Regions from separate parts of the Homo sapiens genome. Here region 2 is linked to region 1. Evidence: fine-mapped expression QTL. A gene starts in region 1. The other region holds a variant in brackets. All regions are shown on one strand. Distances are between the middles of the regions.

Region 1 (16,145 bases):
TCGGCTCACTGCAACCTCTGCCTCCTGGGTTCAAGCGATTCTCCTGCCTCAGTCTCCCGAGTAGCTGGGACTACAGGCGCGCACCGCCATGCCTGGCTAATTTTTGTATTTTTAGTAGAGACGGAGTTTCACTATATTGGCCAGGCTGGTCTTGAACTCCTGACTATGTGATCCGCCTGCCTCGGCCTCCCAGAGTGCTAGGATTACAGGCATGAGCCACTGTGACTGCCTGACAGAGCCAATTTTTAAAAAAAATTTAAATATATTTAGATTTTGTTTTGTTTTGTTTTTTTGAGAGGGAGTCTCGCTCTGTCAACAGACTGGAGTGCAGTGGCGTGTAGATCTTTGGTTTTTAAAAATTAATTTGTCCACTTTCAGTTTTATTATGCTAATTTCAGCATAAATAAATAAAACTGAAATCTCTAAAGTGGGCTATATACTATAATCTCTGTTTTACAGTAATGTAGAAGTTTTTTGACACTACTACTGTGGAGGATGAATTTAAAGGTGGAGCTCCAATTACGCTGTAACTTGCTGTGTGACCTTAGGTATTTCAAACAAGGTTCTGATCTTTTGTTTCCTATAAAATGGGGGAAATCATTCCTATCTATTTTACAGGGTGGCTATGAGCCTTAACTAAGAGAATGTATATAAAAGCATCTTTTAATTGGTAAAGCAGTATGTAGTTTCTGAAACAGCTATATTGTTCTGACATAATTTTGGATGTATTTTTTTTAAAGTAGCAGTTTTAGTCTAACCAAGTCTGTTACAACAGCATAAAAGCGCTTCCACTTAAAAGCAGTACAAACTATGGATTAACTACAAATAATTACACATTTATTAAAATTTATAAGAACAATAATAGTTTTCTATACTTTTTAACTTCTAGAAGATCGTTACATTTCTAAGAGATGGTATTTTTGACTACTATGTTTTGTTTCCTATTCAAAATAGTAGACTATTTCTTAAAAAGACTAAAATACAAGTTTTATTAATATTTTGTATCTAATACAAAGTCTATCTGTAAAATATTAAGCAGCTTTAATCAAACTATCTCTCTGTAACAAGTTAAACACCAAAATAAAGTAGTATTTATTAAGAAAAAGGTAACTACTGCTTATAATTTCATGGCACTAAGCACTCAAATGGCACATGCTGTGCAGACAATAAGTAATGAAGAATGGTTTATATACTATTTGGGCATATAAAATCTACACAGGGAAAGATGGCAAGAATAGAAAGGAGTCCGGATGTCTCAAAAAAGCATTCTGCTTTAAGTACTTTTGTTTGAAGCAAACCAATTCCATAAAGCTTTTACTGAGCAAACGGTGTTAAATCATTGGTATGTAATGACTGACATATGAATAGCCTCATTTAAATACACATTATAAATGGTCATTTTTCTTCAGTATTTCTTAGTTGTCTAAATAGTGGAATTTATAAGTAAATGTCCTGTCTCAGATAAAGGTTTAAAATGTGTGCTACAATAGTTATCTCTAAAATACAAATTCTAACGATAAGGAAATCCACTTATATGTTTTTATAAATTTTCAGTGCTTTTAAGTAAAAAGTAGCAACTCTATTTTTGGTTACTTCAGGTTTTAAAAATCTTTAAGGGATATCATGTGATATTATTCAATAGCATAAGAACATGGGAGAGTCTATGAGAAAATATTTTCTGAGACATTTTGAATCAAATCAGGAGCCTAGCATTTATTTCTTCACTTCCAAAAGAATAGACCACCAAAGAAGTTTAGAACAGACTGCGTAGAGAAATTTTTTAAAAAAGAAAAAAACCCTGATAACCAATCACATCCCTAAAATTTAAAGGCAACAAATGTAGAGAAATAAAGGAAGGGTAAGTCCACAAGGAGGTCTTTCTAAGGAGAAAAGGGAAATAGCTAAGTACTAAGAGGTCACAAGGTACATTGAACACATAAAAAGCCCCTACTCATTAAATTTAAAGATCTGGTCCTGCAAGAGCAGTTTTTGTTACTAAAAGGCATACCATTTGCAGGTTTTGGTTTTTTTTAATTCAAAAAGATTTACAATATTACTTTGTTCCCTGAAGGTTTTTTTCCTGTTAATTTTATTCTATAAAAAGTGTTACCAAAATGGCAACTAAATAAATGTAAAAATTAAGATGTGTTATTTAAATGCAACCAAAAATCTAAGAATTTTAGGCTTATTCAATTTCTGTGGTTTGTTTTTCAAGAAATGCTCCATTGTCCAACTATTTGAAACTTTAAAATAAATGTATCATACTTCTCACTAGCATTATTTTTAATTATATGGTTCTTACTTAATTGTATCACTATTTACTTAAAGTGGCTGTAATCAGCTGTAGTCATGGTAGCATATCCTAACCCACCTTCTCAGTATACACATACTCACCTGCCCACTAACCACAAAGGCCATTGCTATGAGTGCTATGGAATTAAAAACCAAAACAAAAGTCATAATTCTCACTGAGTTGCTTTTATACAAATAAAACAAGGTATTAAATTAAATGAATATTGAAGGCAGCCAGAAATAGGAGGAAGGTGAAAAATGAGAAAACATTTAATAGTGAAAAGAGACTGATGGAAAGAAAACATGAGTTTGACTCAGTCTCCTTCCTTAGCTAGTAGGGAGCATCAGCCAAGTCACTAAAATTTTGAGGTCTCAGTTTCCTCCCCTGTAAAATAAGGGTTTTGAAACTGGTGTTCCCTAAGGTCTTTTTTAGCTATAAAATTCCATGGTTCCAAGAGTAATTAGACAAGAAAAAAAGTAAAAGACAACCAAATTGGAAAGAAAGCAGTAAAATCCTTTGTAGTTACCCTAAAGATTCTACCAAAAACTTACAACTAATAAATCCATTCAGCAAAGTAGAAAGACATAAAGTCAAGACACAGAAATAAGTCGTATTTCTATACATTTACAATAAACAATCTGAAAAGGAAATTAAGAAAATAATACCAACTACAACAGCATCAAAAAGAATAAAATACTTAGGAATTAACCAAGTAGGTAAAAGGCTTCTGGAATGAAAGCTACAAAACACTACTGAAAGAAGTGAAAGACAAATAAATGGAAGTACATCCTGTGGTTACAGATTGGAAGACTTATTAAGATGGCAATACCACCCAAAGTGATCTATAGATTCAATGTAGCTCCTGCCAAAATTATAATGACGTTTTTTGCATTAATAGAAAAAAATTCTAAAATCCACATGGAATCTCAAGGGACCTCTAATAGTCAAACCAAACTTGAAAAAGAACAACAAAGCTGGAAGACACTTTCTGATTTCAAAACTTATTACAAAGCTACAGTAACCAAAACAGTATGGTATTGGCATAAAAAGAGACATACAGACCAATGAAATAGAACAGAGAATCCAGAAATAAACCATCACATATATGGTCAAAAGATTTTTGACTAGGTGTCAAGATCATTTAATGGGGGAAAGGACAGTCTTTTCAACAAATGGTGCTGAGAAATCATATCCACATTCAAAAGAATGAGGTTGGAACCTTACCCAACATTATCTATGAAAATTAACTCAAAATGGATCAAAGACTTAAATCTAAGACATAAAACTGTAATACTCTTAGACGAAAAAACAGGGCAACAGGGCAAAAGGCTTACAGCACTGAATTTGGCAATGATTTCCAAATGCACAAGCAACAAAAGAGGAAACAGACCAACTGAACATTATGAAAATTAAAAAAAAATTGTGCATCAAAAGACAGTATCAACAGAGTAAAAAGGCAACCCACCGAATGAGAGAAAATATTTGAAAATCATGTATCTGATAAAATCTAATATCTATAATTTACAGATAACTCCTTTAACTCAACAATAACAAAAACATGATTCAAAAATGGGTAAAGGACTTGAAAAGACATTTTTCCAGAGAAAATACACTAACGTCCAATAAGCACAGGAAAATACAGTCAACATCACTAATCATTAGGGAAATACAAATCAAAAGTACAATGAGGGACCACCTTATACCCATTAAGATAGTTACTATCGAAAAAAAAATAAGTCTTGGCAAGGATGTGGAGAAACTGGAACCCTTATGTATTGTTAATGTGAATGTAATACGTATGGTACAGCCTCTGCGGAAACAATATGGAGCTTCCTAAAAAAAAATTAAAAACAGAATTACCATGTGATCTAGCAATTCCACTTTCAGGTATATACCCTCAAGAATTCAAAGCAGGGTCTGGAAAAGATATTTGTTCACCCATGTTCATAGCAGCATTATTCACAACAGCTAAAACATGGAAGCAACCCAGGTGTCCAATAACAGATGAATGGATAAGCAAAATGTGGCTGACACATATAAGGGAATGTTATGTGACCTTAAAAAGAAGAGAAATTCTGGCATATGCTACAACAAAGATGAACCTTGAGGACATTATGCCAAGTTAAATAAGCCAGTCAAAAAAAGTCAAATACTGGATAAGCCCATTTATATGAGGTTTTGGTTCTTTACCACTTTCCAGTAATATGAATACAAACACTTCCGGTTTCCAAAACTGGAAACAAAAGGTAGAATGGTGATTGCTAGGACCTAGGAATGGGGAAGGGGAATTATTGTTTAATAGGTATAGAGTTTCAGTTTTACAAGATAAAAAGAGTAATGAAGATAGATGGTGTTGATGGTGGCACAACATTATCAATGTAATTAATACCATTGAACTGTACACTTAGAATGGTTAAGATGGTAAATTTTATGTTACGTATATTTTACTACAATTTAAAAATTGGAAGAAACAATTCTGTGATCCCATAAAAATAAAATGAGGGAAAAAACTCTGAAAAACAAATTAATAAATAAAAGAAGAGATGATGGCGTGCGTGTGTGTGTATTTAACATCTGTCCTTTCCATCTCTTTTTTCCCTATATTCATGACTTCCACAAATCACTACTCCATATAGAGTCTCTCCAAGCTTGGCTTACTTGCTAAAATCTGGTTCCTTCATTCAAATAGCTTATGAATCCTATGCAATCTATTCTTGAAAAATACACGAACTGCTGACTAAATGGTTAAACTCCCTAAAGCTGTTGCCTAAACTCCAAACCACAAATATTTTTATCTTATATTGCTATAAAGTACTTGCACCAGCACAGTGGCTCACACCTATGATTCCTGAACCTTGGGAGGCTGTGGAAGGAGGATCGCTTGAGCTCAGGACTTCAAGACCAGCCTGGGCAGCACAGTCAGACAAAAAAATTAAAAGAAATAACCACACGTGATGGCGTGTGCCTGTGGTCCCAGGTACTCTGAAGGCTGAGGTGGGAGGGAGAATTGCTTGAACCTAGGAGGTCAAGGCTACAGTGAGTCTTGTTCGCACCACTGCACTCCAGCCTGGGCAACAGAATAAAAATCTGTCTCAAAAAAATACTTGCCCCAAATATGATATAAATTTATTCAAGTCAGCCAAAAATGTTTTAGTTTATTAGAGAGCTAAGTCAAGAAATTTGTCAGAAAAACAAAACAATGAGAGCAAAACGAAAAAGAAATAGTGAACATAAATTTCCAGAAATAGATGTATTTCATTTAAATTGTTTAAAAAATTATTTAAGTAAAATAATTCAAGAAAAAGAAACAGAAATTAAATGCATAATTCTTAGACTTTAGTATTAATGATTTTGATGCATTATCATGGGTCAGTCAATGGAATAGTGCCAGTTTCCAAATCTGAATCAAAATGAGGAAAAAATTAGTTGTACATTAGCAGTTGGTTAAATAATAAACCATAAAGTTACAAATCTGAATGACTAATTTCAACACACTGTGATTAAAGATTTGGTAATTCAATGTTTTTATATTGTAAAATGAGGAAGATATCTTTTAACCTAGCAACAGTAAACACACAAAACATTCCCCATTAAAGTGACCATATGTAATAAATTATGATCAATGTTTTGGCTTATCTAGAAGTTACTATAATATTTTGTGGATGGAAGTAATTGATCCAAGGGCCCCAAGTAATATTAGTTAATTTGCTGTAACTTATTATTAAATGAAGTTACGCTGCACCCTAATTCCTGATGTACAGAAACTGATAATATTTGTTGTTTTAAGCTGGGGTAAATTTGGGGGTAATTTGTTACCCAGCAATAGACAACTAATGAAGTACCTCATCAGACATATTGTCAGGTTAATTGGCTAAAGATGAATTTCTGACCCAATATGAAAAAAATAATAAAACTTATGCATTCTTTATTCTGAAACCTACTCTGTTTCACATATCATTTTCGTGAAGGGTAGAGTTGAGAAGTGTGTAGAGCTCCTACCTCAGAAATACATTACTTCAAACATTAAAAGAAGGAAGAGGAAAGCTGAAATAGAAAACATAAATTGTCTTCACTTTACCGTAATAAAAATCATGATATATTCATTTGTGGATATACACCTAGGAGCCTTGAAAATGAATATTTTACTTGTAAAACAAGTAGAATCAATTATTTTATTAGTAAATTCATACAGAACCTAAAAATAAAACTAAAAAAATTAAATGACTGAGGATTGGGATCCATTTATGTGATTTTGCCAAATAAATATTGAGAACCTTCTACGTAAGAGATTAGAACCCAGTCGCTGAGAAACAAATAAAAGACAAGTTTGACAAGTTTTATAACCCAAGTTTGACTACTGTAGCAGCTAGCAATCCATCGTGATCTTAACTATACTTGTGTTTGCATTCATATTACTGGAAAGTGGTAAAGAACCAAAAACTGTCTAGGAACCAAAATAACACTCGACCCGAAAACCAACACTTGGACCTGAAGAAAGTAACCCTTGTCATTTCTCAGGTTTATTTCACAATGACGCTGGGTTACTACTTGGAGTCCTAAACCGAACTACACCCCAATGGCCTAGAAACAGAAGGAACACACCCAGTTCCGCCTCCTGACAGTGATTCCTCACTTTAATGAGCCACCACTACTGTCACTCAAGATGCTTCGCACTGTCATTGGTCGCAAACTCTTGCTGGTCGGCCAGTTTCGGCCAACTGGCAAGCACTGGTTGTCTTTATTTTCGAGAAAAGTGAAGGTGAACAGGGAAAAGAGACAAGAGATCTAAAATATCTAGGTTGACTCCTGTACCTGAGCGACCTGCGATCTCCACCGCCGCCGCGACGAATTGGCCTCTGGGCGGGGACTTTTAGCCAAAAGGAAAATGGCTCAGCCGGGAACTGGTGCCCAGGCCATGGAGAAGCTGATTCAAACTTTACTTGTCCACACCGGTAGAGGTGACCGCGATGAGAATACCAGAAACAGCACTACGACCCTCAGAACTCAGGGTACCTCCAGCTGCAGGGGCCAGAACTGCCGACTATCCCAATTTTGACGTTTCCTATTGTTGCCGGAAGTGACGTTAGGCTCCGACTCTTAACGGAGACGCATTTTTATTTCTGTTGTTTACGATTCGCTATAGATTCCTTGTTTCTCACTTCGTAGCACGAGCCACTCTGACCATCAAGATCAGAAAAACTTCTCAGCTGCAAGTTAGAAGTGGACTGGCCATTGAGGAGGCTCTCAGCGGAGTCGCTCTTCACAGGAGTCTTGAACGCGGTGTGGAATCGGCAGCGAGGAATCCTGGAGCACAGAGAAGCTCCCAGCTTTGAAGGTCTTGCGGTGGTGCGTGGCGGGCAGGAACCCACAATTCCAAATACAAACGGTCGGCGCGAGAAGCGCTTCTGGGCGCAGGCGCCTGGCTGTAGCGACTGGTTGCGGGAGGCTGGACTCTGGTGACTGTGTATGGTTGCATATGCTCCGTTTTCCTCTCCCTGTCGTGCTGGGCCTTTGAAACCGGCTTCTTTGCTGGTGGCTGCTTGGTGAGCCCCGAGGAGACGGCAAGGCTGCGCCTGGTATTGGGCGGAGGTCGCCTCTCTCCGCCGTCCTTACAGAGACCCCGGGCGGAGACGAATGACCAGATCCGCCTTTTCATTCTTTTAAATCAAATGGCGGGAGGGGAGCCTTGCTTATATACCCAACTAGTATATGCTTTTAGTCACAACGAAGTGGGAAGTATCGTGGTAGCTCATCCTATCAGAATTAGGTTGTGACTTAGGGTTGGAAAGTTATAGGCTTACTGATTCCTATTGGATCCTCTGGGGTGAGGATACAAACGGCTCCTGACTATAAGGAAGACAGGACAGCAGTTCGTGTTTTCCTTGTTGGCATTTCCCCAGCTTTTCAAATATTTCTCCACCTTTATTGAAGGCTACAGATTTTTCCCTCACTGTAACAAGTTAATCTTGAAGTTGTTATTCTCTTTTACTCTGGAATTATGGCCATGCTAGACTGTTTTTTTCCCGAATTATCTGCAGACCTTTTAATTTTATGTGTGAACACAGCAGTCCCGTTGAACTCTTTACTTGTCCCTTACTCCTCCCCACTCCCGCCCAGCTTTCTCGATGCTTTGCCTTTCTCAGACCTTTCTCCTATCTCTTAGAGAAGTATTTCCCTAATATCTTTTGCAGTTTCATAAACTGTTTTTCTCATCTTTACTTTTTTGTTTTTGATACGTGTTTTTAGATAATATCGAGCATTATGTGCTATGTCACAAACTCTTAGCCATTGACTGTTATTAGAGTCAGTGTAGTTGCTTCATTCTAAACAAAAATCACTCTGGTCCAGTGACATTCTATTGGGAGGCATTGTTTTAATGACCTCTAACAGCAATGAGATTGAGCGATGTTGAAAATCCTAAACTGCTAGAGTACACTATTTTCACAACCTCTCCCACAAGTTCAATTGCGCAGATCTGACTTGTAGACAAGGAAGGAAGCTAGAAAGGAATATTGAGAGCTTCTTTATTATTGAATCTATGCTGCAAGCTGAGTGGTATCTCCTTTTTTCCTTAGTTTGCCTTTGATCAGTGCTATAAGTTGAAAATGTTAAATTTTTAAAAGTATTTTTCATTAATGAAAGTAAGGTGTTAAAATGTACATAAGTAATAGATTGGCTTCTTTTAATGTCTTGTTTTTAAGGCTTTTGAATTTTATAGTAGACTTAGTAAAGCCCTTTGTGAGAATGTAGAGCAGTAGCTGTAATTTTATTCTGTGATAATCCCAATTTTAAATCCCTTTATTTTTCTGTCTCCTATCACTTACCTCGTTCACGAGCTCTGCTTGTATTACTCTTCAAAATATTTATTCACTGGTACTGAAGAGAGACATAACTTTGTTGTCAGAAATTCCATTATCAGAGGTAGAAATCATGTAAGAGACACTGAAATGTTTTCCAAAATGTCAGAAAAAGGAAAGGTGAGAAGATATCATAAAGTGTTACGTAAAACAGAATTACTTGCACTGGGAAAATGGAATATACATCTGGAAGGACTAAAGGAAGTCTGGAAAGACATAGAATTTACATTAAAGTTACTGGGAAGAAGGTATCCCTAGAAGAATTGTGTTACGATAGATGGGTCTGGAACCCGAAAGAAGCTCAGACCTACTATATTGGCCAGTGGCAAAATCCAAGAATACATTTTTTGCGGTTAAAGCCAGAGTAGTCCTCACTTCATGTTTTTCAGGAAAGTAAAGGCTTATCTTGGGAAATCCCTTTTAGGCTTCCGTGTGTCCATCTACCCCCAGTCAGTCTAAAGGATATTAAATAGGGTTTACCTTCTTGGCCAGTGTTTTGTATAATGTGATTTCAGGATGACTTTCTCTTTTTCTAGTTATCTCCCATTTGACAGTACCTAAAATTATCTCTGTCTAGAAATGTAAATGTTTAGTTGAAGTAATTTATTGGCTGAAAAATAGTGACTAAAATGTGCATGCACAAGTCTATAAAGTATATTCAATAAGCTGTTGCCTACCATGTTGATAAAGGAGACTAGGAACAGAAAGGTAGGTTCATAAAGAGGGAGCAGTTGCTCTACCCTGGGGAAATGGCTGTGGAAATGAGTGGCGAGGGGCTTAAAGTAGGAAGCTTACTAAATTTAGGATTTTGTAAATCGGTGACCTTCTTACCTTTCCTTATTTAAAGATAGAGAAACGGTGTGTAAAGGGATGATTTGTATCCTGGACAGCTGGGTAATGCGAATTGGAGGAAAAGATCACACTAACCCAGCTTCACCTGATTTATGAATTGTTCTGTTTTCATTTTAATATAATGACTTCATTTTAATGTGATAACTTCATTTTAAAGGAGCTTCATTCTCAAAGGGTTCATTACTCAAGGTATTGTTATGTATTACTTTTCTTCTATGAAGTGTCCATGGACAGTTGTGGTAGATGTTTTTATGTAAGTTATTGAGTTTCACGTTACTGGCTGACTAGACTTTTATAGTTCAGAAACTTACCTCCTTCCAGCAAAGGTTCTTAATCGTTTATATACCTATTTATGACTCTTCTTTGGGAAAAATCTCCTTTGATAATCTAATGAAAGTCCCACTCCATGCAAGAAAATTAGTCATTTAGAAATAAATTCCATGCTATTACTTTTGGGGCAGTTTTTAAAAAATGAATCATTTTGTTTAAAGTCTCAGTTCGTTCAAATCTTTTGGTTCACGTATGTGTTTTTCTGTTGTGTACATTCTTCAGAGTCATATTCCTGTTTCATAGGCCCCATGTATGTCAGCTTTTAGTAGGTATCACCAGTAAGTTTTCCAAAATAATTGTACCATTTACTCTTTCTGTAAAAAGCATAGATATTTTGAATTTCTTGCCTTTTTTTCTGTGTTCACCTTTTCTTCTTGGAAGTAGACAGCTGGCTAACCAGCAGGAGTTTGGGACCGATGACAGTGCAAAACATCTTGACTGACAATGGTGGTGGCTTATTAAAGTGAAGAATCAGCATCAAGAGGGGGAATCGGTGTATTCCTTCTATTTCTAGGCCATTGGGATATAGGTCGTTATGGGACCCCAGGTAGTAACCCAGCTCATTCTGAAATAGAGCTGAGAAATGACAAGGATTAAGTGTTGCTTTTCAGGTAGAGTGCTATTTTGGACCCTTGGCACAGATTTTGGTTCTTTATTATGATAAGTACCAAGAAGGAAAAGAACTGGGTCTATTAGAGAAAATTAATGAGGGGGATTAATTAGTTTGGGATCTAAGACTTATTTGAGGTGGTGACATTTAAGCAGGATGCCGAGGGGTATTAGCCAGATGGAGAATGGGAGAGGGAAGGAGTTGCTCTGTATCTCTTCAAGCTTGAAGAAATGGCATGTGCAAAGGTGTTGAACAGCTTGAGATATCACCAAACATCCTTATCCAGGTCCAGGAACTTTATCCCAGATACCATTTCTGTTATTTGTTGCTTTCTATAATATTTTAAATTAACTAAATCACACACATTCTCTTTTTCATCATTACTTGGTAAGTGGAATGTTTTGATTTTCCCTTCTGGTTATGATTTACATGTATTAACTTATTAATACACGAAGATCAAAAAGTGACCAAAATTGTTCAAAAGGTACAATTTATTATAGGATAATTATAATTATTTCATGCTGACAATATGTTTATAAGTGTTTTGCAGTAACCTTTTTGTTTCTATAATTTCATGGTAAGAAAGAAAATGAATTAGGTAGAGCTAGTAATACCAGGTATAGACAAGAATGTAGTATTTAAAGCTAATATCTGAAATTCTCTTCTTGCATCTGCTAACTGAACGAGAAAATTCTGTGTGTGAGAATGGAAAACTTTGGGTGAAAAGTGAAAACTTGGATTTTGTAGTCCAGGCCCTTAATTAAGTAGATAACACACTCAGAAGGAGAAAATTTGGGGTGCTTTATATACAAAGGGACTATTTTTAGAGGTGTGTGTACAGGGATCTGGTGCTGCTTCATTTTTTAACCTGTTTATTGCGGTATGATTGACATACAGAAAGCTATAGACATTTAATGTATACAGTTTCTGTTTGGAGATAAGTAGATATTGTGAAACCATCCAACCATTATTACTACAAGAAATCAATGCCATCACCTTGAAAAGTTTCCTTCTACTCATCTTTTTTTCACGTTTTGTGATAAGAGCACTTAACATTAGATCTAACTTCTTAGCAAAATTTTAAGAATACAATATTGCTAATCACAGACACTGGGTTGTACCTGCAGATCTTATTTATTTTGCCTAACTGAAACTTTGTACCCTTTGAACAACAGCTTCCCATTTTGTTCTCCCCATGTTCCCTTACAACCACCATTCTATTCTCTGCTTGCATGTATTTGACTATTTTAGATTTCACATACATTGAGATAATACAGTATTTGTCTTTTTGTGTTTAGCTTATTTCACTTAGCATAATGTCCTTCAGGTTCATCCATGTTGTTGCAAATGGCAGGATTTCCTTCTTTTTTAAAGGCAAATTTGTTTATTCTCACATTTTTGTTGGGGTCCCTAAGGTTTTCTACATCTAAGATCATGTCATCTGCAAACAGATATTGTACCTCTTCTCTTTTTATTTGGATGTTTTTAATTTATTTTTCTTACCTAGTTATTCTGGCTAGGACTTAAAATACTACGCTGAATAGGAGAGGCTAAAGTAGGCAACCTTGCCTTGTTCCTCATCTTATGGGGAAAGCTTTCAGTTTTTTATCTTTAAGTATCTTAGCTGTGGGCTTCTCATAAATGGACTTTATTTTGTTTTTCCTTTACCTAATTTGCTATAAGGTTCTTCCATACCTAGTTTATTGGGAGTTTTTATCACAAAAGAGTATCGAATTTTGTCAAGTGCTTTTTCTGCATCTGTGCAGATGCCCATGTGAGTTTTATCCTTCATTCTATTAATGCAGTATATTACATTGGTTGGTTGTCATATGTTGAACCATCCTTGCATCACAATGAAAAATCCTACTTGGTCATGGTATATGATTCTTTTAATGTGCTGTTGTGTTTGGTTTGCTAACATTTCATTGAGGATTTTTACGTCTATATTCATCAAATGTATTAGACTGTAGTTTTCTTGTAGTGTATTTGTCTGGCTTTGGTATCAGGGTGATGCAGGCCTCAGAATGACTTTGGAAGTGTTCCCTCTTCTTTTTTTTTTTTTTTTAGATATGTTTAATAAGGTTTTGTATTAATTTTTCTTTAAATGTTTGCTAGAATGTATCTGGCTCTTGGCTTTTCTTTGTTGGGAATTTTTTGATTATTCCATCAATCTCCTTTTTTGTTATTTGTCTATTCAAGCATTCTATTTCTTCTTGATTCAGTCTTGGTAAGTTATATTTTTCTAGGAATTTACCCATTTTTTTTTAGATTGTCCAATTTGATGGCATATAATTGTTCATAATAGTCCCTTATGATACTTTTTATATCTGTGGGATCAATTGTGTCCTCTTTCATTTCTGATTTTGTTTGAGTCTTCTATTTTTAAAGTCTAGCCAAGGATTTGTTGATTTAGTTTGTCTTTTCAAAAGAGGAACTTTTAGTTTTGTCAATTTTTAAAATTGTTTTTCAATTTTCTATTTCATTTATTTCTAATCTAATCTTTATTATTTTCTTCCTTCTGCTAATTTTGGATTTAGTTTGTTCTTTTTCTAGTTCCTTGAGGTGTAAAGTTAGGTTGTTTTATTGAGACCTTTTTTTTTTTTTCTTTGAGACAGAGTCTTGCTCTGTCACCAGGCTGGAGTGCAGTGGCGTGATGATCTTGGCTTACTGCAACCTCCGCCTCCCGGGTTCAAGTGATTCTCCTGCCTCAGCCTCCCGAGTAGGTGGGAGTCCCAAGTAGGTGGGACTAGAGCCACGCACCACCATGCTCAGCTAATTTTTGTATTTTTTGTAGAGATGGGGTTTCACCATGTTAGCCAGGATGGTCTCAATCTCTTGACCTAGTGACCCGCCTGCCTCAGCCCCCAAAAGTGCTAGGATTATAGGCGTGAGCCACTGTGTCCTGCCTCTTTCTTCTTCTTAATGAATTTATTGCTATAAACACTTCTCTTATTCTGCTTTTACTGCATCCTATATGTTTGGGTATACTGTGTTTTTATTATTGTTTGTCTTGAGATATTTTATAATTTCTGTTTTGATTTATTCTTTGACCCAGTATTATTTAATAGTATGTTATTTAATTCCCCTGTATTTGTGAATTTTTCCATTTTCTTTCTATTATTGATTTCTAGTTTCATTCCCTCGTGATCAGACAAAATGTTTAGAATGTTTTTAGTCTTCTTAAATTTGTTAAGACTTGTTTTGTGACCTAGGCTGTGATCAGTTATAGAGAATGTTTCATGTCCTTTTGAGAAGAATGATTATTTTGCTATGGTTGGGTCTCATGTTCTGTATATGCATGTTAGGTCTTTGGTCTATAGTGTTGTATAGTTTGCAATTTACTTGTTGGTATTCTGTCCGGATGACCAGTACATTATAGACAGTGACGTATCAAAGTCTCCTTCTGTATTGTATTGATATCTATTTCTTCCTCCAATTCTATCAATATTTGCTGTTGGCATTCTGTCTGGATGACCTGTACATTATAGAGAGTGATGTATCAAAGTCTCCTTCTATATTGTATCGATATCTATTTCTTCCTTCAAATCTGTCAATGTTCACTGTATATTTTAAGGTGCTTTGATGTTGGGTGCATATGTATTTTTAGTTGTTGTATCTTTCTATTGAATTGACCCTTTTACTATTATATAATGCCTTCTTTGTCTCTTTTGACAGTTGTCGACTTAAAGTCTATTTTGTCTGATATAGATAGCCACCCTGCTCTCTTTTGGTTATAGTTTGCATGGAATATCTTTCTCAATCCCTTCACTTTTAGCCTACGTGTGTCCTTAAATGTTAGAGTCTCTTGTAGATAGCGTATAGTTGAGTGTTGTTTTTATTATCCATTTCAGCCATTCCATGTCTACTGAGAGCCCTTAATTATTAAAAATTTAAAGTAATAATTTTTAATAATTAAGTACTTAATTGTTTCCATTTTATTCATTGTTTTCTATTTGCTTTCTGTTTCTCCTGTTTTTCTCTTGTTTGTTGTCTTTGTGATTTGATGATTGTAGTAGAATGCTTTGATTTTTTTCTTTTTTTTGTTTATTTACTATACTTTTTATTTTGGTTACTATGGGGTTTGCATCAAATATTATGTAGTCATAGCAGGCTTTTTAAAGCTAGTAACAACTTCATTCATATTCAGAATCTCTACACTTCTCCCCCCTCTTCCTCACCAATGTATGTAATTGATTTCAGATTTTACTTCTTTCTATATTGTTTCTATTAACAAATTTCTGTGGTTGTTGTAGTTACTCATACTATTTTTGTCTTTTAATTTATATACTAGTGTTCAATGAGATTTACGTGCCACAGATTTCAGTATTGCAATATTCCATGTTTGTTTTCATGTTTGCTTTTAGCAGTGAGATGTATACTTTCATATGCTTTCATACTGTTGGTTTAGTATCTTTTCAGTTAACTTGAAGATCTCCTGTTAGCATTTCTTGTTAGGGCATGTCTAAAAGTGACAAACTCCCTGAGTTTTTTAATCTGAGGAAGTTTTCATGTTTTCTTTATTCTTTTATCTTTTTCTTTTCTTTTTTTTTTTTTTTTTTTTTTTTTCCAGGTCTGGCTCTGTTGCCCAGGCTGGAGTGCAGTGACATGATCTCAGCTCATTGCAACCTCAACCTCCTGGGCTCAAGTCAGCCTCCCACCACAGCCTCCCAGGTAGCTGGGACTAGAGGCATGCACCACCATGACTGGCTAATTTTTGTATTTTTTGTAGAGACAAGATTTCACCATGTTTGCCAGGGTGGTCTTGAACTCCTGAGCTCAAGCAATCTGCCTGCCCTCAGCCTCCTCAAGTGCTGGGATTACAGGTGTGAGCCACCATGCCTGGCTATTTCCTTCATTCCTGAAGACAGTTTTTTCAGGTAATTATTTTCAGTTGGCAGGTTTCTTTTTTTACTTTCAGTATGTTGAATATGTCATTCCCTCTCTCCTGGCCTGCAAGTGTTCTGCTGAGAAATTCACCAATACCTTTATGGAGGCTCTGTTATATGAAATAAGTTACTTTTCTGTCACTGCTGTCAAAATTTTTTCTCTGTCTTTGAATTTTGACAAATTCATTATAGTGTCTATTGGTACAGACCTCTTTGGCTTCAACCTATTTGGGAACTTTTGGGCTTCGTGAGTCTGGATGTCCATTTTCCTCCCTAGATTTGGTAAGTTTTCAGCCATAATCTAAATGTGCTTTCTG
Region 2 (16,145 bases), 35 kb before region 1:
ATGTCAGGTAAAACTAACTATACAGAAATACGGCCTAATTTGGGGAAGGGGGCTGCAGATGAAACCACAATACAGACGTTAAAACAAGCCTTTTAACAAACACTTCTGCTGTCTAATACAAAACATGATTTCTTAAAGCTCACATATATATTGCAGTATGCCTTTCAAGGAAAGAGCTTCTTGATAAAAAAATGCTCCAAATGAAAGACTAGCAATTTTATTCTGGGAGAAAAATATTAAATTATTTAACTTAAAGTAAAGGAAGCCCAACTCCAAACCAATGTATAGGTTGTACTACTTTGGCTTTAAACATTGCTATGTTCTACAAAAACCTAGCTACAATACACACTGAGGGAAAACATAGTAAGACAAAACAATTCAATGTTTTTCATAGAATTTATCTTTGAATTTCCTTTTCTCTGCATGCAAAGTTTTCCAGAGAAGCATTACCCATAAGTTTTTACCTACTTTAGATTTAAACCACCACCAACAAAACACCACCAACAAAAAAATCAAATGCTGAAAACAGTATTCTCTCACATATACAGAGGTTACATTCAAATAAATGTCTTCGCTGGATTTGAATGTGCAGTTATTGAAATAAAAGGCAGGTGGGTTTATTTCAACTTGCGGTTATCCAGATACATGCATTCCCATGAATACTTATGTCTGGATACTAGCACACTATGTGCCGTTAATTGGCAGAGAAAATGACGTATTATATACACACAACATAATGTTTTCACACATAAATTCCTTTGGCATTTCTTCACTTTACAAACACTTACATAGTACTCAGAAATATTACACACATTAAGAATTTTAAAAGTTGGAAGAATATCTATAAAAACCTTTTCAAGATAAAAACTTTCTCATAAAACTTTTATGGTAAAAATTTTTTTTAAGTAATTAGGTACCACGAGGTAATGCTTTTGAAAGGTTATAATTATCTATAAGTTGTAATTCAAAGATCAGACTTTTTATATAAAACTAACTTTATGAGCCATCAACATAATAGCCTACTAGCAATTCGATCAAATTTTCATGTGAATTTTAATAATACAAAAGCAATGCTAAGGCACTGATTTTAAAAATGTACATGAAGAAAAGAACGTGATAACGTGAAACTTTCTTGTCAACTCTGTTGTAACCTGTATTTCAGACTAAATCCTGAATACAAGGGCTAGAAAATGTAATATGATAAGATGGAAAGCCAAAATACTTCTTTGGAATGAGGCTTTCATCAACTGTCCGAGGGGGCAGCAACTAGAAAACTGTTAATGCTTGTTCTATCCTTTCCTCCATTAGTTTGAATAATCGAGAGTTGACTGTATACTCAATCTGCTTAGCAAAAGTCAGGTTTGTTTCCAAAATTCCTCAGTGTAAAAGGATAACAATATTTTAGAATTATTTCCAGTATTTAATTTTAATTGAAATGATTTAAAAACAATGTCAATTAAGCATTATTTAATAGATTCTTTATTCATACCTAAATCAGTATCTGAGATGTAGAACTAATGCTAAGCTACTTTTTAAAAATTGTGCAAAATAAACAAACCTACTAATAGTATACATTAATGATATCTAATTCTCTAGTTACATAATCTATGCCACTTTAATATCATTTGGTGATAGTTATAAATTAACACTGGTATTTGCCTCATGTAAACATCATAAAAATACACTGTTAGCCATATTCTGTTTTATAAAAAACACATTTTGAGAATTTTATATCTAATCTAACCTCAGTTCTCCCAAATCAATCAAATACATAGAAGCAGTCATGAGCACAAAGAATTTTAAATTCAATCCTGAAAATTGGGAACATAGATTGAAATAAGCCAACTCTATTGGTTTTATGAGGAAAAGAGGCATCAGGTTCAAGCTTGGGATTCCTTTGGAGAGGAAGGTTACTTTAGAAGGGCTACCAAAGTGAATGGTAAAGGAATAACAAATACAAAAAGACATGAGAACAGATTATAACTGTCTCTAATAAGCAAGCTGTAAGTCACCCAAATTCTTATCTTCTTATGTATTAGGTTGGTGCGAAAGTGATTGCGGTTTTTGCCATTAAAAGTAATGTCAAAAAACCGCAATCACTTTCGCACCAACGTACAATTAAATACAAAAAAATACCACAGCATGAGGTCTGTTGAATAACTACATATTTGTTTAGTAAGTGGTATAAACATTTTTAAAAATAAAATTTTAGAAGAATGGTACAGAGAAACTCCTAGACCACATAGCATATCAGTGACTAGTCAGGACTAGAACTCTGAGCAGTGTGTATGTGCATGGACATCTGTGCAGTGTCTCACATGCAAAGGAAATCATTAGTCTAGATATATATATATATAGTATTCTAAAGAAGGAAGGTTGTAGCTCAGTATAGTCTACAAAATTGACTATAAAAGTTTCCAATTTTGGGTGTCACATTTTATAAGGCATACTGACAAATTAGGACTTATCTGGATAAAGGAAATCAAGACCTGGTGAGATCGTTGAAGGCTGTAGAATTCATGTTATGTAAGAAAGAGCGGAGGGACATAGGAGTATTAGGCCAGAGAAGAAGATATACTTAGGAAAGAAGAAAAGATTAAGACTTTAGGATATCTAAAAGACTGTGTCACAAGGAAAAAGGAAAAGATGTGTGTGGTTGTAGTGAAGATATTAAGCTCTTTTGGGGGGCTATGGACCCTTTTGAGTACTAGGAAAGTCACAGAACTTCTTCCCAGAATAATGCACATACACATTTTTTAAAACAGAAATAGAGTTCCATCTAAGGACTGCAGGTTACAAATCCTTATCCTAGATGAGTATAGATGTAAAGTCAGGAAATCTCAATTATAGGCAGACAGATTAGTACCACATAAGGAAGGGAATGCTTGTAACTTTAGTTGAGCTGTTCAAAGACCAATCATTTGTCTTTGCTTGATTCAATTTTGTTGTTGTTGTTGTTGTTCTTACATTTTCAAAATAAGATTAAGCTTCAAACTCAGAACTACTTAAATTTGACCGTTTAATCTATACACATTTTAACTCCCATTTGCAACTCTGTTCAACTTTTAGAATTATCTAAATTGTTGCAGTCATAATGTAGTTCCTTTTTATTTGCATGTGGGGAGAATTCTAAGATAGTTTTGTCAGATAACTCTGAGATGAATCATGATGGTGTTAGTACTATCATGGGCTGAAACCATCATGATTAATCTCAGATACCTCCAAGCATAGAGATCAGCTCCTGTCAGGTGAAAGGAAACTACTGGCCAAAATATATTTTTAAAAAATAGTTTTAAAGGATAGTTACAGTGGGGTAAATAAAATTCCTCTTATTAAAATAGATATTAGGCCTCATATTTCTTGGGAAAATAAACTGGTAAATAATGTCCATGCTACTAATTAAAAATTTCCTAGTCATTTGATTTTTTTAAAAAAGTATCCAATTCACTTTACATTTAGATAGAAAGATGAATGCCTATAAGACTAGCTTGTAAAATAGATATATGTATATCTGTGCATATTTACATATATGCATCTGCTTTAAAATATTTTTTAAAACATGAAGCAATACATTAAAATTGTCCACATTTTATTTTTGAAACATATTAAACACAAGGTGTGATATGCAAGGTATTCAGTGATAGACACTGAGTAGTGTAACACAGAGTTTTGCCCTAAGAAAATTTAAAGTTTATCTGTGGCAATGAGACACATACATAAACATCTAGAATACACACGTGCCAAGGTACATCAATAATACATGGCAGTAGAAGAAAACCTAAATGAATGCTTATGAAAAGTAAGTGTTTCAGAGTTCAATGAAAGGAAAAGTCACTATGGGATAGGACGTTTGGATAAGGTTTCCTGCTAGAGATTAGACTGAAGTATTGTAAGGGGTTTAGACAAGGAATTTAAGGGGTTTAGACAGCTCTGAATGAGGGGAACACTGGAGAAGAATGTTCCAGTTAATACTGTATTATATGAGCAAAAGTAATATATAATTTTTAAAGACTATTTTTAGGAAGGCAGGGGAAATATTTTGGGTTGGAGAGTAAATGTACAACCAGACTATGACAGTGACAGAAATAGTGCTGAATTTTAGGGTAAGAAGTTTATTCTCTATCCTAAATCTAACTGGAAGCCTCTGAAGGCTTTTAAACCTGATGAAGCAATGGGCTATAATGTGAATTTGGCAGCAATATAAAGATAAATAATGAAAGAAAAATTAGATAGTGGGCTATTCAGCGGAGCACTCACTTAAAAAATAAAAATAAATAGATAGCGGGCTATACAACTGTATATGTTACATATATGTTACATATATGAAAATAACTTGATAAATATGCTGACTATCAAGCCATGTGACAGTGAAAAGTGAAAGACAGCTGATGGTTCTGGCTTAGATGAAGAGGGAAATGACTGACAGAAAAATGATGGACAGGTCAAAAAAAGTCAAAGAGGGTGTTGATTTGAAGAAAACAGTGATGAGTTAGCTTTTAGACATGTTGAATTTTAGGTGATGACAGATATAACTAGAAAGGCATAGTAGGCAGTTGGTAATGTAATAGGATATATTTTAAAAGTGAGGGTTGAAGATATAGATTCAGGATCTTGGATAAGAAGGATTAGTAAGGGAGTAATGAAGAGAATGATAGAATAATGTTCCAGAAGCCAAGAGCCTTCGAGTTAAAGAACAGGGTGTCTAGTGCAATTATGCAGTATGATGGAAAGAGCACCATTTTTAGGACAGGGACCAAGCCATGGTTCTGCAACTTAATGATGATATGAACATAAACAATCTACACAATCTTCCTGAGCCTCAGTTTCCTAATCAGTAAAAATCTCAGTGGGCTAAGTGCATAGCAAAAGGAACACAGCTAGTTTTCTTTTTCTTTCAAATAGCTGAAGGATACTAGAATAGGAAGAGGGCACTGAGTTTGGTGACTGGGAGGAAAGAAGTGACTTTCAAGAGGTCTCTTTCCACACTGTAGCAGAGGCTGAAATCCAAGAAGAAAACAAAAGAATGAGCTCAAGGTAAGGAAACTGAGTATTGTCCACTCACTTGAAAAATATATTAGTACAAAGGAGGAAAAAATGGCAAAATTAAAGGGAAAAAAGAGAAAGTATTTTTTTTTCAAGATAATTATGACCTACTCATGTTAGAAGACAAAAAGAGAGGTCAATGCAGACAGGAAAAGACTGATGTGCGGGAGATTTTGCTGCAGGGGCAGCAAAGCCGATAAAAAGAGAGCAGGGGAAAGGTCTGAAAATACTGCTGGAGTTTATAATGATTAGCCTGGGGGACAGCACAGTAGCACCGGCTCAGAGACAGCTACAGTAAGAAAGTGAAAAGCAGAAAACAAAGAACATGTTGGTTTCTTTCTTAGGTCTATCTGGGGAGCATTGGAAAAGAGAGGGCTGATTTGGATTCTTGGGCAAAGTGGTGAAGATTTCTATCAACAACGATGCAGGATATGACTGGATATGACTGGGAATTCACTAGGAATAAACTAAAGGAGTGCCAAGCAGCAGTGAGAATCTAGGTGAAGTTAATGTGAATTCAGCCCATCTCTTGTTAAGGTTAAGCAAAATCTACCATACATATGTTCAGAATCAGTAAATATATATTTGGGAACAGAGTGAATTCTAGAAAATTAGACATGCAAAGCCAAATGAAAAAGTACTGATAATTGGTACTGAAAGTACTGTCTACTGCCACAGACACCTGGCACACACATTGTGTAACAGTTGGTATCAATAAAAGTTACATGATGTTTTGTTTTGTTTTATTGGTGTCACTAATAAAACAAAACTGTCACATACTAGGGAGTACCTTTAATTTTTTTCCTAAAGAACAACATAGTAAAGAAATTTAGAAAAAAATTTGATTTAGCAAGTTTTGTTCAATTTCGTCCTTGTATAAAATGTAAAATCTAGTACAATGGCCACTACTTTTCAGGTCATCAAACTGCCCTTAGACCATTATATAATAGAAAGCCAATTGGATACTGCATTTAATTTTCTTTTAAAAAAACATTTTGAAGACTTTAAAAATAGTAATACTTAAACAATATAGCTCAATCTAGATTTCTAACTTTTCTTTCAACATGATAACCAATATATTATTTTTCAAGTATACATTTTAACCACAGTGAAACTAACTGAATATATTATTTTTCAAGTATACATTTGAGCACAATGAAACTTAAACTGAAATGTAACATTTTCAAACTGAAGATAATGTAAAAATTAAGTGACACAATATACGTTATTAATAGTAAAAATAATTGACACATCTGCAGGTCAAATGGGAACATCCCCATTGTTTTGTTTGCAAATAGCAGCAGCAATGGTTAAGATGACTGCTCTGATACTATTTCTTCTTTTCTACAGTGTTTGAAGAATTGCTAAGGTAAATGTAAAATCTATTAATTTTTATCAGTCCAGAAGTTCTCATTCTCCCTATTTAAGCAGAGAACATGTGCTCTATAGTTAAGGGAGGGTGGGCCTCACAGAATGTGAATAATTGACAATATTTATCTGAGGATATTTATTATGCAAATAAAAAATCAACACCTTGCTTTTTGGCTGCGGTGAAATAAGCGCAGAAGATTTCTTAATTAGTATGTTTAAGACTAGGTGTCTATGTTTTTATCCTGTCATTTCATTTCTTTCTACCCACTAAATTTTGTAATGTTTTCTGCTTTCTGTAATTTTCCATGACCTTCTATGTTTAACACTGACCTTGAGCACATACATAACAGAAATGTCACACATTGCTTTTATTAAGCTGCCTATAAATATAACAATAGTTATTCCTAATACAGTCACTAGATTCAAAGACTAAAGTAAAATCTATGCCCAGATTTTAAAAGTTGTCCTAGATAAAAAGATTATAAGAGTACTAAGTTTTCCTCTCACTGAGGAACCCATAACTAGGCTATTCACCAGAAGGCTCTGTGTTACACAGAACTAAGAGGAAAGGGGGCAGTGAAAATTGGGAAAGAAATGTAAAGATAGTTTTGATGTCAGTTTTAAGTCTAAATAGCAGATTTCAGTCTCCTTTCTTCCAGAGCAAGAACAGAGAGCACACACTGTCCACACTGAAGTGGGAGAATTAACAGCTGTGAAGAGAGAGTGCCAGTATCCTGTAGCCAGTTTTCTCAGTTAGCTATGAAACATAATACCATATTTTGTCTGGAGGATAATGAAGAGTTTTGATTTTACATTTACCTTTCGTATAATATTAAACCAGTTTATGTATAAACATTGTTTGAATTGGCAAGGATTTCAGCTAGAATGATTTATGGAAGACTTTTCAACATATTAAAGAGCAGAATGCTGAGGAACTGCTAAGGACAGAGATATATACACCTGAAATTATCTGCAGTTAAAAGATGTCAACAGAAAATCCCACATAAAAGAGTGATGGTTTAAGGAAAATCTAAATAAAAATAACAATTCCCTCCAATGGAGTCCAGGGAAAACACAGAGGAGGTATAGGACAGGTCTTCCTGCTTATTTTTCAAGAGAGAAAAAGCAATGGCAAACAAAATAACATGAACCTAATTTTCTAAAGTTTTAAATAATTAAAAGCCCCTATTAATTCGTTCTAATAGCCTCAAACAGAAAAAGAACATCTGTGAATTCTAATATCCCCCAAAAGAACCACATTAGTGACTGGGATGGATCAATATGATAGCTAAGAAAGTATTTCCTAAATAATAAATTACTACTATCAATTAAATGTAACAATCATTATTGTAATTATTATCAAAAAAGTTGCTGCTAGTTGAGTCACGCTTCTTGGAAAAGCCCCCTCTATCTCTAACCTGTCTCTATATTAGAAAAAGAAAGCATTCTAATCAAAATATGGAGATAAATCTCTATTAGGTTATGATTAATAATTGAAACTAATGAGAAAGTGACACATTTAACAATGATGCTAGCTAATTTAGAATTCTTGCTTTATAAGAATCACATACAAATACTGGATTTGCAATGTGCATATATACAACTGTTTAAATGACTAACCCATAAATACTAGTTTTATCATATTACCTAGATCTTAATATGTACATTTATAAATATATTTTAACAGCTCTGAAACAGTTTTAAAGTAAACAACATTTTTAAAAAAAGTCTACTAGTAGACAAGCAAGTTGGGATTTACATGGTAGTTTCACTGCTAGCACATGTATATACTTAATCATGTAACGTAAGTATCTGTTCATCCTGCCAACATTGTAGCCAAGACACATATTTTAATTTTAACATAACTCTGGACCCCTAATTATTGCTTAAATGTCAAAAAGATTAAACTCAGCAGCACTACTGAAACAAAATGTTACTGTATATGCAAAAGATTGCATATACATGTCAGAAAATACAATTAAAGACAAAGGGTATCATTTAAAGCTAGGAGATATTGATGTGACCAATACATACTTCATGAAGGACCATTCGTCAGGTGTCATATAGTTATCTACTAGAATCCAAAAGTTCAAGAAGAGGAAGAACGTCAAGGCCTAGAACAGTGCCTGGTTCTTGGTATTTTAAGTTGTTGTAGTTGTACCTTTAGTATAAACATAGAGTTACAGTTTGGTGAACACTTAGAGGCATGTTTAACATGTCTTATTTCATTTAATCTTCACAAGAACACTGTTATAAGTATTATTACTGTCCCCATTTTACAGATGGGGAAACTGAAGCACAGAGGTTAAATAACTTGCTCAGAGCCAACATTACATAAATTGTAAGTGGTAGAGATACTTAATAAATATTTGTTGAATGAATGTTTGAATCTACGTGTACAAAGCTTCCAGCTGACTTTCAAGACATGCTGTAAACTTCCAAGGATTATATAATTCAACCAAGGGAAAAATACAAAAACAACCCCCTTCCATAAAATGTATAAGCTGGATCAAATATTAGCGGCAGATAAAACCCCAGCACACTTTGAAATACCTCAAGTTATAGATTCTCAAAGGTCAGAGTCACCAATCCAAATAATCCAAAGTAGCATATCACTTTGATGCTATATTTAACTGCTAACAACCAAAAGAGATTTACAGAAATCTTAGGAATTTTGTTATAAAGAAGGCATCTCTCTAAAAACTTTATGATATAAAAGAAGAAAACGTTATATAGTTTTATGGATAAATGTACACTACAGTTAGCTGGTTTTAAAAAATGCACTTAAGGTAGTGTTTCCTTCATACTCCCATATTTGAAAAGCTGAAAGTAAGTTGATGGATGTCTTACAATTGATGACATCCAAGAATTGAGGAAATATTATCCTTTGGGTTTCTGACACAATACTCATATTTTGAAGTGACATCTACTGTGACACTGGTAACAATTGCTAAATTCATGAAAGACATGTAGAGGCAGACACCTTGGACATTAAAGCTGAGAACTTAAATCTAGAAGTAATATCAAGTTTCACTGAAACTGTGATCACAATAGATAAGGAAAAATATTTGGGAGGTATCAAGAGGGTCAGGTAGTGTATGATGAGAAAATAAAAAGCAAACAGATTTTTCATTAAAATGCACTTAAAAAGCTCAATGTACCACTGTAAAGTCTCTAGTTACAATTACTTAAATTGCTAACAAAAGTAAAATTCAAATAAAAAATTGTTCATTGTAGCATATCATATTTTAATATTAAAAATTTAAAAATGTATCCTAGGATGAAGACATTTTCCACTAATTTCAGTTTTTACCCTAGACAATTCACACTCAATGATACAGCAAATTAGTAGTTCCCATAGCACACTGAATAAAACAAGAGCAAAATACATCAGGTGGTTTGATTGATGAATAAACTATGGAATATTCTAGGGCCTGAATCTCTTTTTCAACCAGATAAAGATTAGAAGAGGGCCTCGGAAATTTGTCTTTCTTTCAAGTTTCTAAAAGGTTTATTCCGAGTCCACAAACCTCCTCTGGGAACTGATTCTACACCACATGTTGGAGTGACTCTGGGAGAAAAGGGAAAAGGAGGGTGGCTGGGATAGAGTATGGTTAGGGTAAGGTGTAAACTAAAGTTGTCCTAAAAGGCAAAGGGTAAAGCTGCCTTCTTAACCATAAAATCACCTGATGGATTAGATTAAAAAGAGATGGATACATACACACATACACACATGCATATCCACACATACCATATTACTCTCAAAAAAAAGAAAATCACCTCCAGTTTAGCACCATTTGACTAATTGTAGCTAGTCGCTTGAAGGTATTAAGTTGTCTAGGCAGAGGAAGAGGCTATTTAGTGTCTGAGAGGCATAATTTTTCACTTTGACTCTAATGCTGATCAAGGAGAAGGAGCCTGCCATAAACTCCAGCATTTTAGCTCCTATGGGTAAACAGTTCTTACAGAGGGGGGAGCTACTTAAGCCATATTTGGTGAGGGACTCCTCTCACTGTCATCTAGCTTCTTTTGCCCTGATTAAATTCCCTTCAGCAAATTTGGAGATAAATTGATCTGCTACTGAGAATTAGCAATGTTTATTTATGAAACAGGGTCTTGCTTTGTCACTCAGGCTGGAGTGCAGTGGCATGATCATGGCTCACTGAAGCCTCAACTTCCTGGACTCAAGTGATCCTCCCACCTCAGCCCCCTAAGTAGCTGCGACTCCAGACACATGCTATCATACCCGGTTAATTTCTGTATTTTTTGTAGAGACAGGGTTTTACCATGTTGCCTGGGCTGGTCTCAAACTCCTGAGCTCAAGTTATCCACCCACCTTGGTCTCCCAAATTGCTAGGATGACAGGTGTGAGCCACTGACTGTACCCAGTTAGCAATGTTTATTTTTAAAAATTTGCATTGAGGATTACATCTCAAACTCCTAAGAGTCTGGATAATAATAATAGCAATAATACATCAAGATGTTTTTGGTTATAAACAACAGGAGACCTAGTTCAAAATAAAGGGATACATTTACTTCAAAAATAAAATTACCTTGTATAACAAGAAGTTCCAAACTAATATGGCTCCAGGTTGTTGGGCTCACAGATAGCATCACAGACCCAATTCTTTCTTTCCAGTCTGCTATTCTTGGTAGGGTTACTAATACCCCTCATGGCTACCAGATGGCTGCACATGGTCATGCCATTATATTCTCACATACCAATGCCTAGAGGTGTACATGACACATGTACTTGTGCATGTGAGTGCATGCACACACACACACACACACACACGCACAGACAATACTACCTCTTTGTGTCTCTTTTTTAAACCTAAAAAATAGGCTAGGTATGATGACTCATTCCTGTAATTCCAGCACTTTGGGAGGCCGAGGCAGGTGGGTCACTTGAGGCAAACCTGTCTCTACTAAAAAAAATATTAGCCAGGTGTGGTGGCATGCACCTGTAATCCCAGCTACTCCAGAGGCTGAGGCACAAGAATTACCTGAGCCCGGGAGGTGGTGATTGCAGTGAGCCAAGACTGCACCACTGCACTCCAGCCTGGGCAACAGAGTGAGCCTCTGTCTCAAGAAAAATAAAAAATCTAAAAAATCTTTCTCTATACACATATTTTCCAACCTCATGAGTCAAGAGATAGATTACACGGATGCCATAAAAGCATCCTTCAAGGTGAATGGAGCTTGGAATAAAGAATCCATATTCAACTCTGGACCCTAGGAATGAGCCAGCCACACAACTGGTTGAGGTGCTTTCCCTAGTGAGGAGTCTAAATGGTGAGTTATAAGCCTTGGCCATGTAGGCCCAGTGTGATTTTTAAAAAATTACTTTTATCATAGGATATAGTGCCACTAGAAGGAACCCCAAGACATCTCTTGAGTTCCACCTATATCCTTTTCTTTTGCCACACTGTGTAGTAGTATTTCCCTCTGGTTATCAGGCTTAACCACTTCAATCACAGCATAACCACCTCCCCTCCTATCCCGTCTTCCTCCCTTTTAAAATTTTGATATGTTTGCTTAG[T/C]AGCAGGAAGACCTAAACTGGCAAGAAGGTAGGGTCAGCTACCAACCAAATTGTTGTGCCACAGGTGCCAATGTTCCTCCTTTGGATACTAAGGCCTCTAACCCAGCAGAGACCAGAAACAAGGAAGGCTGAATCACATGTTTTAAGTGTATCACTAGTTAAAATGGCGTTACAGATGCTTGGATGCCTTAACAAAGGCCATTTCCCTGTTTTTCATTTCTTCTAGCATCCTAGCTGCAGTTGTTGAATTATAAGTCTAAGCCAATCATGTAATCTTTCTATTCTATTCGCTAGTGCTCTAGGGGTGCTCGTGTGATTCAATTATGTTCTATAAGAAATGAGTAGAAGTACGCCAAAGGCTTCTCAAAAAGATTTTTCTCCCTAATAAGTATAAGGAATATGAGGAGAAAGCTTCTTTTTCTGCCTCTCTTTCTTTGTACTGGGGACACTATTATGGGGGAAGTGATATTTTGAGTTGTGGTAGCATCTTGCTATCAAGAGAGGGTGAAAGTCAACACACTCAGGTCCATCAAGAGATCATCATCTCACTAAAGTAACTGGGATACCTGCATCCAGGACTCTTTTGAAGTAAACAAATGTAAAGGGTTTAAGTCACAGTTTAGGTTCTCTGTTCCTTGCAGCCAAAAACATCTTAGCTGATACATACAGGGAGAAGTGGGTACTGCAAGAAGCCAGTCATAAAATGTGGAACATGCTGAGTCGAGCAGCATAATGAAGGGTGCTGAGAACTCAATTCTTCCTAGCTAGATCTTAGTTTATATCACAGCCAAGAATTAGAATTTCGAGTTTATCTTTCTCTTTCTTTATGCTATCTGGCATTGTTTGAAGTATGTGTGTCTTACTGTCAACTTGGTTCACATTCTACTACCTGTAAGTTTATTCCTGAGAGATTCACTTTCAGTAGAAAGATAAAGCCAAATTTCTAGATGTATAGAACTAAGGATAAAACCTCAAAAGGTAGTATATTTTCTAAAGTAAAAAGTATCTTAGTGGCCTGTCAGCTTTCATTAGGAATACTTCTGTGTTGCAGGAGGTACTAAGATTTAAAAGAGTTAGTACAGAGAATGCGATACCAAGTAAATAATGATGAATGGTCTATTAGTTACAAATTATTTGACACAGATATATTTATCAATATGTACAGGCAGTTATTTGAATTCAATATTGCTTTCAGGTTTATTGCCTTACCCTTACTGTCCAAAGTAATACTTCCCTTTCCAAATCAGATGGTAATCAAAATATAAAATGGAAAAATCTCTCAGTCTGTCAAGACTCAATTCAACTCTCAGGGTTTGTTTGTTTGTTTGTTTTGTAGTAAGTACTATCAGACCAAAGGAAAGAAAACAATTACAGACCCACAGACTTTGATAAGAGAGAAGATTACATCAGATAACTGCAAGTGAACAACAGGGTATTTCAACCATTCTAAAATATTTATTTATACACAGTAGGATTACAGATAATCTATACTAGGTTATTTCAAAATGTATTCCCTGGAATGTTTTTACCTTCCTCCTCCCAAAAAAGAACACCACGTCAAACAAAATTAGATATATATTGCATATAACATCCCCCTTGTTAGATAGTCACGATGTACATCAAAGTATTAACGGCTTTGAAAAGTTAGGCTGTAAATAAGCCAACTAATCATAATCTATCATGTTCAAATTAGACTTAAGAATTCCTTTTTAACTGTGTATTCCCAAGGAATGCACTTGGGAAATGTTTATTGGTACATTCTAATAATGCCCATGAGGGTTTTCATTCCCTAGGAATAGAAGTTAAAGTTATTTTTCACCACTGTTGCTACGCTATGAAGTAATGGTAATGACGATTTTGTTGTTGAATACTGGAGCAAAAAGTCATTAACATATATCTGAGATACTATTTTTAAGAACTGAATGTAAATTCCTGAAATGCTTTCTATAATGGAGAACTACAAATTTCCTGTTTATACTTTAGCTGGTCCAATAACAAAAATAACATGTTATCTTGAAAATAAGTTGCATATTCATTTCTACCTCAAACATGTGGATAGGTCAAATTTAAAATATTTTTATAATAGATTATTTAGTAAAATGTATAAAATTATACACATGTGGATATTTCTGCATAAATACCAGAAAAATGTGCTTACATAGTCATTAAAAAAAAAAACTTGTTATCTGACCCCAATGAGGATATTTAAAACAAAAACTGTTTAAAAACACAATTACACAAACAAAAATAAGCCTATATTAAAGTTAAACCATGTTCACTACCAATTTTTCAGATCCTAAATTTAAAAATAACTACGTCAAGAAAGTGTTTTAATATACATTGGAGCACAAGTAATATAGTTTACTGGTTGTTAAATAAAATTACTTCATTATACTACTGCTAGTGGAATAAAATTGACACACACAACTTGTACATGCAGGGAAAATACAACTTAATGTAAACAGATGGTTTTCAGCACATTCCTTTACTAGAATGTGGCCACCTGCCACAAAGTACACAAGCTCATGCACAAGATCAAGACGTTACATACAGCTGAGATCACAATGTCATGCATAGTACAACAGCGTGCCAGATTATCGTACCACAAACTGTGCAGATGTTCTCCCCCACCCCATGAGCCACTGCCAGCAGCTGCTGTGGAGCTTGGTTACCCATATCCGTGACATGAACGGTGTCCTTTGGAGAATCTTGTTCCCTGTGGCTGTAAGTATTCTTATTTTTATAATATTTTAATGATGTTTGCTATCAAAATGTTAAGTACAATACTGGAAATTATGAAAAAGTAGACTTTTTACAATACTAAGCAATTATATACATCTTATCTCAGGTACTTGCAAAAAGCATCACATATTTAAACGTATCATCAAAACTAATTTACTGCTCAGAGTTAAATGAACCTAAAATAATATATCTGATGACAGTGCTCCAGTGAGTGGGGAAAAAGAAAACAAAATACAGTCTCCAAAAAGTACTGCCTAATTTTGAGCACTCAAAAAACTTGGCAAGAGTCATTCTAAAGTCTGGCTAAAGTATGACTCATACAGATAAGTGCTATATAAGAACATTTATTAGGATGGATCTTTCACTTACATGATTTCAATTTTGAATACTTGACTTGGTAAACAATTAGCCAAGTTAACATTATTTATGTTAGTCAATGAAAGAAAGTACAGAATATAGTCACTGAACTACTTCCCCTCATTTCTCTGACCTTATTAAGTGTATTGCAATGTCCTTTTTTTCCTATATATTTCCTAAGTGCATTCTGGTAAAGATAGCATTTTCTTTTGCTATTAGGTAACATCTGCTAAATTACATGTTCATAAAAGCATAGAATCAGAATTTTGGAACCTCAAGACACATTGAGTGGCTCAGCTCTATGCCTCCTGGGAGTACTACATGGCCCTTTTAGAATGATAAATTCAGTGCCTCTGGAATGTTCCAGAGTATCTTTAAATCAGGCCAGGGAGTAAAAAAAAAAGAAAATACAGCCAACTCTCAATAACAATGGAAGGTAGGATAGATAAGTAAAATCTGAAGATCTAAAAATCTTATTTTAATTAATAACTTAAATCCCCTCCCTTAACAAACATTTGACTTATAATTTTAAAAAATTATGTCAGATATAAAAACAACTTGAATTTGAGCTCTTTTCTCTGCCCCCTCTCCAAACACCCTAGAGGAGGTACTAACAAGAACTGTATAGTTTGATATTGGTAGCTGCAAGGATGAAAACCTATTTATATGTCTAGCTTTTCCAAATTAGATATTTAAACCTATACATATAACATTTTAGCATATGAGGACCCATGTGTATTTTCATCTTTGTGTAAAAATGATTGCTTTATAATTTGTTTAAAAATTGGCATTCCTTTAGCAAGGAAAGACTACTTACCATAATCAATATCAGCAATTACATCCAACTTTTCTGACTCTGTAACAATCTACAACTTAGTACTTACCAGGTTACATTTCTCTTATAATGTAACATTTGAAAGTGATATGAATTGAAGATGACAGTTTTACTCAACATCAGAATAATTCATGACAGGAGCCAGCATGCCTTGATTAAATGGGCATAATAAGACTGGGGCTTAAAACAGCTGCCTCTCCTGATTCTTATGTACTGTACAGTACAGCACTGTACCATTCTGCCTCAGTTTTACTC

Which allele goes with the higher level. Positions count from the first base shown, and alleles are read on the strand shown. Sizes are in standard deviations (SD) of each study's normalised expression.
For the expression in sun-exposed skin of the gene that starts at base 7,607 in region 1, T is the high allele of the variant in region 2 and C is the other (small effect, 0.20 SD a copy in GTEx).

What was found. PIP is the estimated chance that this variant, and not a neighbour inherited with it, causes the effect.
Region 2: its variant is fine-mapped to the expression of CEP44 in sun-exposed skin (GTEx, PIP 0.97).

Annotation. Positions count from the first base shown.
Region 1 is chr4:174,276,305-174,292,449 of GRCh38, forward strand. CEP44 (centrosomal protein 44) reads left to right here and starts at 7,607. Exons shown (of 12, transcript NM_001040157.3): 1 at 7,607-7,639. It overlaps FBXO8 (F-box protein 8), which reads right to left and starts at 7,363. Exons shown (of 6, transcript NM_012180.3): 1 at 7,106-7,363. RefSeq lists an enhancer at 7,558-7,807 and a silencer at 7,572-7,839.
Region 2 is chr4:174,241,468-174,257,612 of GRCh38, forward strand. All of the region lies in intron 3 of FBXO8 (F-box protein 8), which reads right to left. Among named protein-coding and RNA genes, the nearest start is that of LINC02268, 29 kb to the left of the region's middle. The variant T/C (reference allele first, on the strand shown) is at 11,957.